3 linked regions of the Homo sapiens genome follow. The protein of the gene in region 2 interacts with the protein of the main gene of each other region in a pairwise test. Each region holds a gene or a part of one and is shown on either strand. Other genes may lie near its edges. The genes, in order: IQUB, KATNAL1 and CEP57L1.

Region 1 (3,658 bases), on a different chromosome or scaffold from region 2:
TTGATTAAAACAACCAAGTCTTTTAATTAACACTAAGTGAATTACTTATCTTTATTAAATCTCAACTTCCTGTGTTTGCTTCAGCAGCCCATATACTGAAATTGGAACCATATAGAGAAGATTAGCATGGCCCTTGGACAAGGATGACATGCAAACTTGTGAAGTGTTCCATATTAAAAAAAAAAAATCTCAGCTTCCTCATTTGTAAAATGGCAGTAAAAGGTTTTAAAAGGTCCCTACAATGGCCCTGAAATTAAGATGGTACTTACTAATGAATTTTAAAGATCATTCAATACCATATGTTTATTATGGTAACATTATAGTATTATTAAGATTATATTCAGGTAAAATTAGCATACTGAAATGAATTTATACTGCTTACTCTGGTTTAGAGATGGGGACGCAACTGTGAGACTGATAATGTAGTTTAGGCAAAATGAACAGAAGTTTAGTGAAAAATAAGGGGCTATGTGTCATTGAAACCTAGTGAATAATAATTCACTTAAAAATACTCTATAATTTAATTATTTGCTCAAGTAATATAATAATCTTAAACAAATTTAAACTACATTGTTTTTAAAACTTGCTTTGACATGCAGCTACAAGACATTCAGTACCTGACAGAGAACATCTGGGCGTCCCAGTCAGTCCTCAGTGCTTGCGACAATCTCAGTGATCTGGTCATGGTCAGATGGAATAAATCCCTGGAGTGGTCCCCCTGGAACTGCATTCTTCTTACCAAAGATGAAGCAGCTGCTCATCTCAAGCTAACAAGTATTGAAGAGGTAAGAAAGTTGAATTTTATTTGGGAAGTTAATTTAATCATTGGAATTATTAGCGATAACTGGACTGCCTTCTAATATATTCCATGCTTAAATACTTCCATCAGATTAAGAAACAGAACTTATGGATTAACAACAAAAAAATTTATGGATGGCATATATGGCACAGATTAAATAAAAGGTATATATAAGAGATTTGAACATATTACAAGTCCTAAACATCATACCAGTCTCTCCTAATAGTAAGTTTAAGCACATTCCACGGTAAATTCCATGAAGGCAGTGATTTTGTTTGGCTTATTTACATCTATTTCTCTAATACCTACAATACTGCCTGTCACAGAATGGAGTTTATAAGTATTTGTTGAATGAATAAATGTGCATTACCACCAGATAGGTATTATGGAACCCAGAATCTGTCCTTCTTTGATTAATTATCATGAGTCTGCTTAAAAACACCCAACTCTCAAATTTTGTTCATAATTTTGTGCTCTAAATAGCAATCATACTGATGGGGTGTAGTTCTGATGCTCCATTTTTCATTTGCTTCCAACTTGCTGGGAGTGGAGCAAGCACTGTAAACATTAAATGCCATTTACTGTAATTTTAGTAACTTACATGATGCAATCTGTAAAACATTTTGATGGGTAAGTTGAGGGACTCCTGAAGAGTTCGTAGAGAGCTCCATTTACACTAGGTCCAGGATCCCGAGAGTTAATACTGATTCTCTGCATTCTTTAATTCCACACAAGGTGTCAGCTAAAGGAAAGTAAAGAAATGACAAAATGCAGTAGTCGTTTAAAATAGTGTGATTCCCTGTTTGTTTTTTTTCAGTGGAACAAGGGGTGATGAATATAAAGATAAGAAACTAGCTAAAGTTTTAGTTTTTAAATATTTTTTTAGTTTTAAGAAGCCAGGCTAAGAAAAATTTCACTCTAGGGATTGAAAGAAAAGGTAGCAATAAGTTGAAGCTGTATTAAATGTTATATTTAGTAAACTAAGCTGCCTCATAAATATTTAATCACAGGAAGCATAGTCAATACTAGCAATATCATTTCATCTAGGACCCATGATGAGATTGAAGTTCATTCCCAAAGCTGATATTCCAGTGCTTCTTCAATTAATCCACACAACTCCCTTTGTGCATTTAATCAAATTACTGCAGTATCAAATTAAATGTTCTATTCACATGCATTTCTAATTTAGAATGCCAGTCTTATCGAATTTCTGTAAAGGGCACCAAGATTTGCAAGCAGACAAACTGGAAAAACATTTGCCTTTTTTATGGTTTTGGGCTGATACAATCTTTTAACTATTAACTTTCAGCCCAGTTAAAGAGTAGTTTATATCTTGCAGAAAGATGGAGCATTTTCAGAATTTTCTTAATGTTCAGAGATATTTGCTTTCTTAAGAAGTTAAAAAAATACTTGCAAGTTAATATGAAACAGGTATAGGAAACGTGGAAAAACACTTTCGTTAATGTGAACTTTAAGTGGAGCAGATTGATCTCTCCTTGTGTGCACACTGGCCAAAGTAGGAACAATCATGGACTTAAAATCAGTAATCCTGACCCAGTTAACTCAAATCTCTGTCACTGACAACTTTACATTAAAACCTTCCCTCTTTGCTTCATAAATTTTTAGAAAGATTAGCTAAATAAGTGGAATCAGTAAAGAGGATAAAAGCAGCTCTGGCTCTGAATTCTAGCTTTACCATTCATGAGCTGGGAGAAATTGGACAAATTTGTGAATGTCTCAATGACCCAGCTTTCTCGTCTATAAAAAAGAGATAATGGTATCTCATCATAGGGAAGCTTTGAGTAGGCCATTATTTAAAGCTTTCTGCATAGTTTTTTTTGGCATGAATAAACTTAGGTAGTAACTATGAAAGCACTTTAAAAATTTTTGATGCATTTTATTTTTAATTTTAAAGCAATATATTATTGGCTTAGAATCTGAACAGAATAAAAAATGTAATGTAGAAAGTAAAGGTCTCAGAGGTTGAGGGAACAGGGAGAGATTTGTTAAGGATACAAAAATTATAGCTAGATGGGAGGAGTGAGTTCTAGTACTGTTCTGTGGCACTGTAGGTTGTCTATAGTTAATTACAATATATGGTTTCAAATAGCTAGACGCAGCATATCGAATGTTCCCAGCACAAAGAAATGATAAATGTTTGAGATGAATATGCTAATTACTCTGATCATGATATATGTATCATCCCATCACTATGTACCCCGTAAATATGTACAATTATTATCAATTTAAAAAATTTAAAAAACGACTGAATGAATAAATAAAGGGAGGCAAATAGACAAATCTCCCATGTAGAATTCCAAATAATTTATGTAGATACTCTCCACTCTTAAGGAGATGGAGAATAACTCTCTACCCTTTAAATGTGGGCTGTACATAATAACTCCTTTCCAAAGACTATATTATGGATGGAAGGGGAGGACCTTTACAGTAGAGAAACTTGACAAACACTACCTCAGCCAGGTAATCAAGATTAACAGCAGCAGTGCTGTCATGCTGATGGTGTGTACCCTTGATATGATGTGAGGAGAAGGGCACTTCACCCCTGTGGTCTTCCTCCCCAAAACCCATCCCTTCAGTCTAATAATAATGAAGAAAACACAGGACAAACCCAGATTGAGACACATTCAGGAAAATGTGGGTGTGGGGTATATGGGACCTTTCTGTAATATTCTTAGAACTATTTGTACACCCAAAGAATTTGTGAACATAGTTTAAAACCATCACATGGCTATTTCAAGAGAATGGACCTTATTTCAATGGGAAAAAAGGTCTCTTGATGTCCACCCATCCCTATCTCCATGTTGCAATGATAACTACTATTTCTTAGGTATATAATAA
Region 2 (3,658 bases):
GAGAAACAAGGGAAATAAAAAGCACACCTGACTCACTTAACATAGTAAAGTTAGGCTCCCAGGAAGTTTAAGTTGCCAAATACTGCTTAACTGGTATTAAAAGAATCACAATTACTATGTCATTATCCATGAAGAATTCAGAAAAATAATTAAATGCACACCAAGATAATCAATACAAAACCCAGAAAAGGTCTAACTAATCAACTATTGTTAGGCTGGTGCAAAAGTAATTGCGGTTTTTGCCATTGAAAGTAATGGAAAAACCACAATTACTTTTGCACCAACCCATTACAAACAAGTTTTAACAATCACAAGACTAATGTTTTAGTGACGGCTCCTAAAACTTCAGGGAAAAAAAAAGTGCATTTCTGACTGGCAATAGTTTGCAAAATAATCGTAATGAAACTACTTATTTCTTTATTTTAAAAGTTAATAAAAGGAAACCTCTCAATTTTTAGGAAGAATTCAATTACAATAAAATCATGATGTCTTATGATCTGGCATCTTATAATCTGTGTCTCAGAAAGAAGGGCAATTTACAGCATCAGATGAATACTGGAGTTTAGGTCAGACTTAAGTTATCTGAAAAGAACATAAGGCATTTACAGTTTTTAGCAGGGAAAAATAATCAAATCTCTTTTTTTAAAAAAAACCTTCTTAGTATCTTGGTTAAATGTCCAAAAAGCTGTATTATTTTTAGTTTTAAACCAGTAGGCACTATTCGAAACTGAGAATTCAGGATGTTATCAAATACAAATTTTTAAAAGCTTGACCATTAAAGCATAAATTGCCTAATGAGACACATGTAATCATAAAAACTAACGCCAGGATCATTTACTTGTGATTGGATATATGCCATTTATTTTTCTGGCTTCTTTCTAATGTGTAATTCCTGCTGAATTGAGTGAGCATGTCAGATTTCTATCTTTATCTTAGTGTGTGTAAAAGTTCTCAACCTAGACAAGGACAAATTTTAGAATTTTCCAATGAACATCATTCACTATGTATGATGCTGTTTTGTTAAACTAGCTGTTTGGAAAACAATAAAGATTTCATTTGTTTTGCGTTAGCCACAGAGAGTGGACTTGTTTAGAATGTAAAAGTATTTATCTCAAATACTAAAATCAAACTCAAGAAAAATCAAACAATGCTGGAGCTGAGAAAAATAATGGCTATATATCTGGTTGAACATGTTGAAAGAAAAGTGAAAACACAGCCAGGCATGGTGGTGCGCACCTGTAATCCCAGCTACTTGGGAGGCTGAGACAGGAGAATTGCTTGAATCTAGGAGGCAGAGGTTGCAGTGAGCCAAGATCAACCACTGCACTACACAGCCTGGGTGACACAGACTCCTTCACGCACACACAAAAAAGTGAAAACAAACTTGGAAGTCTAGAATGAAGAATTACATCTAATGCAGTAATATTCTTCCCACCTTTCCATATTAAATGTAAGAAGCACCAGCAAAAAATACTAAAGACAGAGAAATGACCTGGCAAAATGATTCAAATACCACAGAGCGTGAGAATATTCCTCAGTAAAGCTCAAGATATTATGAAGTAGCTAGCAGAAGAAATGGCAGGGGTAGCGGAAGTAAAAATTCTAACCATATGACAGACTCTAACAGTAAGTCATAAATTCTAAAGGTTTAATTAGTAAATTCATTATTTCCTCCAAAATATACTGTCATTCTTCTCTTAACAATGAATGTTTGACACAAATCCAATTTTGATGTTAAAAGTCAACATACATAGATAGGTCCCTCATGTTGACAGAGCACAGAATTGGAAAAAAAAACTGCAAATGAGAAATAGGGGTATTTCTAAATCTTCTGTATTCCTAAAATATCACACTGCGCCCTTGCTTCAGCCTCCCTGATAGACTGGTTTGGGTGTGCAATATTAATGCAGGAATACGTGGAATACCAGCACAAAGCCGGGGAGGGAGACTAGCAAACTCTCGCCATCAATTATTTCTCAACTACATTTAGTATTCTTCGCAGTTTTAGATTTTTTTTTCCTTTAAGCGAAAACCACTCCACTGAAAAAAATTCCAAACTTGTTTTTTAAAAATTGCAGGAATTTCTTCGTATTTTATCAACAAAAATACCAGAAATTAAAGAGCTGACAGAAATTCAAGCAGATCCAAATTCAACCATCCATTTTTCATACTTCTCCAAGTCTGCAGCAGAGACAGACTTAGCAATTTTCTTTAGGGCCAATTCAAAGTCTCCTTTGGTAACAGGCATCTGAAGTTCCTCTTTAGAAAGTGCACGGATTTCTTCTGGACTTAAGCCATTGATACGCCGTCTCATTGCCATTAAAGAGGCATCCCTAAAAATATACCAAAATCAGTCAACAGTAATTTTTGCACATGTTTTAAACACTTTCAATTGTAACAAAGTTATGAAAAAAAAATCAAAAGATTATTTTATATGTTTTTATGAGGCTTCTTAGAATTTTCCACTTAAGAAACATCCTGGGGGTTCAGCAGAAGTTAAGACAGGATGCAAACAACCAAAAACATGAAATGTATAGTTAACGAACCCTAAAAGTCTAAGTTAAGCTCGAATAGTACTGAATTTTCTTTTCTCCACTTGCTCCTCAAAGACAGCCAAGAAGTTTAGGAAACTGAAGTCAAATTTTGAAATACTGAATTGTACACTTGGAAATGAACATATGGCTAATGTTAAGATAATTCAAACCACAGACCAGTTTGTCTACAGCCTAAATAGAGGAATAAAGACACGAATCACTCCCTCTGAAACATGAATATCCACATATAGTGGACATGGAATTCCCTACATGGAGTATTTGTAGGCAACTGAAGGCATAAACTCTGGCTTCTCTTGATCCCATGTGCAGCTCTCTTTGACCAACTATAAATAAATATGAAGGTCTGGAAGAAAAGGATAATTCATAATCACAAAAAAGCTATTAGGAAGGCCAAGCCAACAAAAATGTCAAGTTCTTAAATATTTTGCTATAGTAGCAGTAGGAACTATTGCAACCTTATTGTATGCCACTAAACTTGGATGCACATGGGAAAAATGCGAGCAGAAAAGGTGAGAAAAACAGATGCTGTGGCTTTAAAGAAAGGCTACTAAAGTCAATTTAAGTGCAGTTAGAAAAATAAGAAAAAAAATAACTGCAGTGACAGGAACTGTCTAAAACTTATGATGTCGCTAAACTGAAAAAATTTTAAACGTGTATCTTCCCCAGCTTACGCTGATCATTTTTGCTCATTTGCATGTGTTTAAATAATGCCAACAAAAACTAAATAATATTACTTTAGGTTGATGCAGAAAGGCTCCAACACAAAGCTAAACTAATCTTAGGTTGTCAAAGTCATTATTATCGAGTTAGACACAATAATTTCTTTTTTTTTCTTTTTTGAGACAGAGTCTCGCTCTGTTGCCCAGGTTGGAGTGCAGTGGCGCGATCTCGGCTCACTGCAAGCTCCACCTCCCGGGTTCATGCCATTCTCCTGCCTCAGCCTCCCGAGTAGCTGGAACTACAGGTGTCCGCCACCACACCTGGCTAATTTTTTGTATTTTTTAGTAGAGGCGGGGTTTCACCGTGTTAGCCAGGATGGTCTCGATCTCCTGACCTCGTGATCCACCCGCCTCGGCCTCCCAAAGTGCTGGGATTAGAGGCGT
Region 3 (3,658 bases), on a different chromosome or scaffold from region 2:
TGAGCCACCGCGCCCAGCCATACAGCTGTTTTTCAAAGCAGCAGTACCATTTTCTATTTCCCACCAATGAATGAGAGTTCCTGTTGCGCCCCACCTTTGCCAGGATTTGGTGGTATCAGTGTTTTGGACTTTAGCTGTTCTAATAGGTATGTAATGGTATCTCATTATTGTTTTAATTGGTGATTCCCCAATGACATATGTTGAGCATCTTTTCATACGCCTATTTGCTGCCTGTGTATCATGTTTGGTGAGGTGTCTTTTCAGATCTTTTGTCCATTTTTAAATTATTATTACTGTTGAGTGTTTTTGTTTTTTAGAGGCAGGGTCTCCCTAGGTCACCCAGGTTGGAGTGCAGTGTTGCTTTCATAGATCACTGTAACCTCAAACCCCTTGGCTCAAGCAGTCCTGCCTCAGCCTCCGAAGTAGCTAGAACTACAGGCATGCACCTCCACGCTCAGCTTACTATTGAGTTTTAAGAGTGCTTTGTATATTTTGGACACACAAGTCCTATATCAGACCTGCATTTTGTAAATATTTTCTCCAAGTCTGTGGCTTGTCTGTTCATTCTTTAATAGTGTCTTTTGCAAAGCAGAAATTTTTAATTTTAGTGAAGTCCAGCTTTCATGTATCATGCTTTTCGTGTTGTAGCTAAAAAGTCATTGCCATACCCAGGGTCATGTAGATTTTCTCCTGTCTTCCAGAACTTTTACAGCTTTGTGTTTTGCATATAGGTTTATGATCCATTTTTTAGTTTTTTTTTTGTAAAAGGTATAAGGTCTGTGCCTAGATTTATGTTTTTATTAAAAAGTTTCTGCTGGATCTGAAATTATTATTTTGATCAATAATATTAAAAGGTGAAAAACTTTTTTTTAAAGACCATTATACTGAATCTGTACAACTATATTGGTGCCATTCTTCAAAACTGTTCCTTGAGAGAGAGACCTGAAGTCAGCCTAAAGATGAGGCCAGGGAGAACTTTATCTGGAATGTATCAGGAAACCGGACTAACAGTTCCATTTTAGTTATCTGTTGTCAGCATGTGCAGTTGGCTGAGTGCTGTAAGTGAAAATTGTTAGGAAGACTTTCTACAATTAAGAATATTATTCTCCAATTGAATTACCTTGTTACTTGTCTACATTGCTGGTTTTTGTTTTTGTTTTTTTGCTACTTTTTTGCCTAGTCTTACAAGGTTGCAAAAATCAACCTGTGATTTTTCCACAATAGTTTGACCCTTCTCTACAATGAAACACTGAAGCCATGTAAACTTAAAATATCTCTTTCTATGATAACTGACTTCAACTTAAGTTTTTAAAGGAAATTATACTAATTATTTACTGTATAGTAGCATAAGCAGTTTTGCCTCTAAATGCTTCCTTAGTTTTTCTTTTGGCTTGTTGAAAAATGTCTTGTCAACCAAGTACTATATGTGTACTTTTATGTGTGGGGTATATGTGTATTGCCCAAATGAATCATAAAGGCTCTTAATTTGAATCTGTATATTTTATTTTTAAGTTTTCCTTAACAAGGTCGATTTGAATTCCTTAACAAGATTGATTTGAATGATATTCTTTTCAGCCCTTCAAAAACATATTTTCTGAAACACTGTCATACATACTATTCTCAGAATACCATGCCCCTTTTTTCTATGTTATTTTGGTTCCATCTTTCAGGAATAAATGAGTAAACCACTTAAATCAAGTTTACTCTTCAGTATTTTCTCCAGTTTTTCTGTTTTTGGTGTCTCCAAATTTACTATAGTATGCTTTGAATGACTAAATCTCTAGTATTTCTGACATATATTAATGGATAGATTTTTAAAAACCAATAATTGTTGAATCTATTTTCATTTTGCTCTTCTTGAAAGATTTGTGAGCGAGCTCTAGCAATATACGCAACATACAATATGAATTTTATAAACCAGTCTCACTACTGATTTTATTCTTATTTTTCTACTTATTTTCCTTATCCACATTTTACATGAATATATACATATATAGGGGTAAGATATTAAAATTATATGTCATTTTTAAAAGCATTACATATTTCAAACAAAAAATAAGAGTAACAAAATAAATACCCTTTTAAACTACCCCTTGGAATGAACAAATGTTAACATTTTACCTAGTTTGCTTTAGTTTTTGTTTTTTTTTTTTTCAATGAAATGAAATATCACATAGGTTGTGAAAGTGCTCTTGGCACAGTCATATATTGTCTTTGTCTTTTAAAAAAATGTTACATAGAAGATATCTTACTATCTGTAACTTACTTTCTGTTTTACTCAACAATATATTTTCAGAGCTTATCTGTGTTGCTAAATGTAGATCTTGTTTTCAAATTTTAGCTGGTGTATAGTGTTTCATTGTATGAATATGATACAACTTATTTATCCAGTCCCTATTAATGTATATTTATTTAAAAAAAAAATTTTTTTCTGTTGCAATCAGTGCAGCAGTGAACATCATTATACATATGTCCAGATATGTGCCATTTTCTCTAGGGTTCACTCATAAATTCGGAGAAGTGGAATTGCTGAGTTATAGGATATACACAGGATCACATTTTTCAAGTTATGTTTTGTTTTACCAGTTTACACTCCCACTGGCAGTTCATGGGAATTTTCATTTCCCCACATCCTTGACAAAACTTAATATTGATAGGCGTGTTTTTTTGTTTGTTTTTTGTTTGTTTGTTTTGTTTTGTGAGACAGAATCCCACTCTGTTGCCCAGACCAGAGTGCAGTGGCACAATCACAGCCCACTGCAAGCCTCAACCTCCCGGGCTCAAACGATCCTCCCACCTCTGCCCTACAAGTAGCTGGGAACACATGTGTGTGCCACCACACCCAGCTAATTAAAAAATTTTTTTTTTGTAGAGACAGGGTCTCACAGTATTGCCCAGGCTGATCTTGAACTCCTGGGCTCAAGAAGTCCTCCCACCTCAGCCTCCCAAAGTGCTAGGATTACAGACATGAGCCACTGCACTGGGTCCTGATAGGCTTCTTTTAAAATTTTTTTCAATCTAATGGGTGTAAAATAATTTCTGTATTGTTTAAATTTGCATTTTCCTGATCAATGAAGTAGAACGTTTTTGTCCTTTTAGCTATTCGTGTTTTCTTGTCTTTTAACTTCCATTGTACCTTTTGTTCCTTTGTTAATTGACCTTTGTGTTTTTCTTAATAATTTATAGGATAGAACTTGTTTCTGTATTTCAGATACTAATCTTTTATGTTATATATGTTTCTTTTTTAAAGATATCATCAATGATGTTTTTTGTTATACAGACATTTTAATTTTTATATAGTTTTATCATTTTTTCTTTTTTATTTGTAAATTGTCTTGTTTTAAGAAATCTCTTCTTACCCAAAGTCTGAAACGTACTCTATATTTTCTTCTAAAACAAAGGTTTGTTGTTCACGTATAGATGTTCAGTCTAGCTAGAATTTATTTTTGTGTTTGGCATGGAGTAGAGATATATGTTTATATTTTACCGTGTGGATAGCACTGTATAGTGAATATTGGCATAGTGAATATTGAATAGCCAATCCTTTCTCCATGTAAATGCCCTCTTTTTCATATACCAAATTCCCACATATGTAAAAGTTTATTTACTCTCTTTTCTTTTGTATCAGTCCCTTTTGTCTCACCTCAGGCCTATACCA

What was found.
Region 1: the proteins of KATNAL1 (region 2) and IQUB interact in binary tests that used the Homo sapiens proteins (3 or more experiments, as listed by UniProt).
Region 3: the proteins of KATNAL1 (region 2) and CEP57L1 interact in binary tests that used the Homo sapiens proteins (3 or more experiments, as listed by UniProt).

What each region holds. Positions count from the first base shown.
Region 1 is NC_000007.14:123,454,508-123,458,165, reverse strand, and holds part of IQUB (IQ motif and ubiquitin-like domain-containing protein), read left to right. Parts: intron 1-599; coding exon 600-785; intron 786-889; coding exon of another isoform or gene 890-973; exon of another isoform or gene 974-3,658. UniProt on the Homo sapiens protein: Adapter protein that anchors the radial spoke 1 (RS1) complex to the A microtubule of outer doublet microtubules in axonemes. The triple radial spokes (RS1, RS2 and RS3) are required to modulate beating of the sperm flagellum.
Region 2 is NC_000013.11:30,206,406-30,210,063, forward strand, and holds part of KATNAL1 (katanin p60 ATPase-containing subunit A-like 1), read right to left. Parts: intron 2,334-3,658; coding exon 2,135-2,333; 3' UTR 1-2,134. UniProt on the Homo sapiens protein: Regulates microtubule dynamics in Sertoli cells, a process that is essential for spermiogenesis and male fertility. Severs microtubules in an ATP-dependent manner, promoting rapid reorganization of cellular microtubule arrays.
Region 3 is NC_000006.12:109,101,900-109,105,557, forward strand, and holds part of CEP57L1 (centrosomal protein CEP57L1), read left to right. Parts: intron 1-3,658. UniProt on the Homo sapiens protein: Centrosomal protein which may be required for microtubule attachment to centrosomes.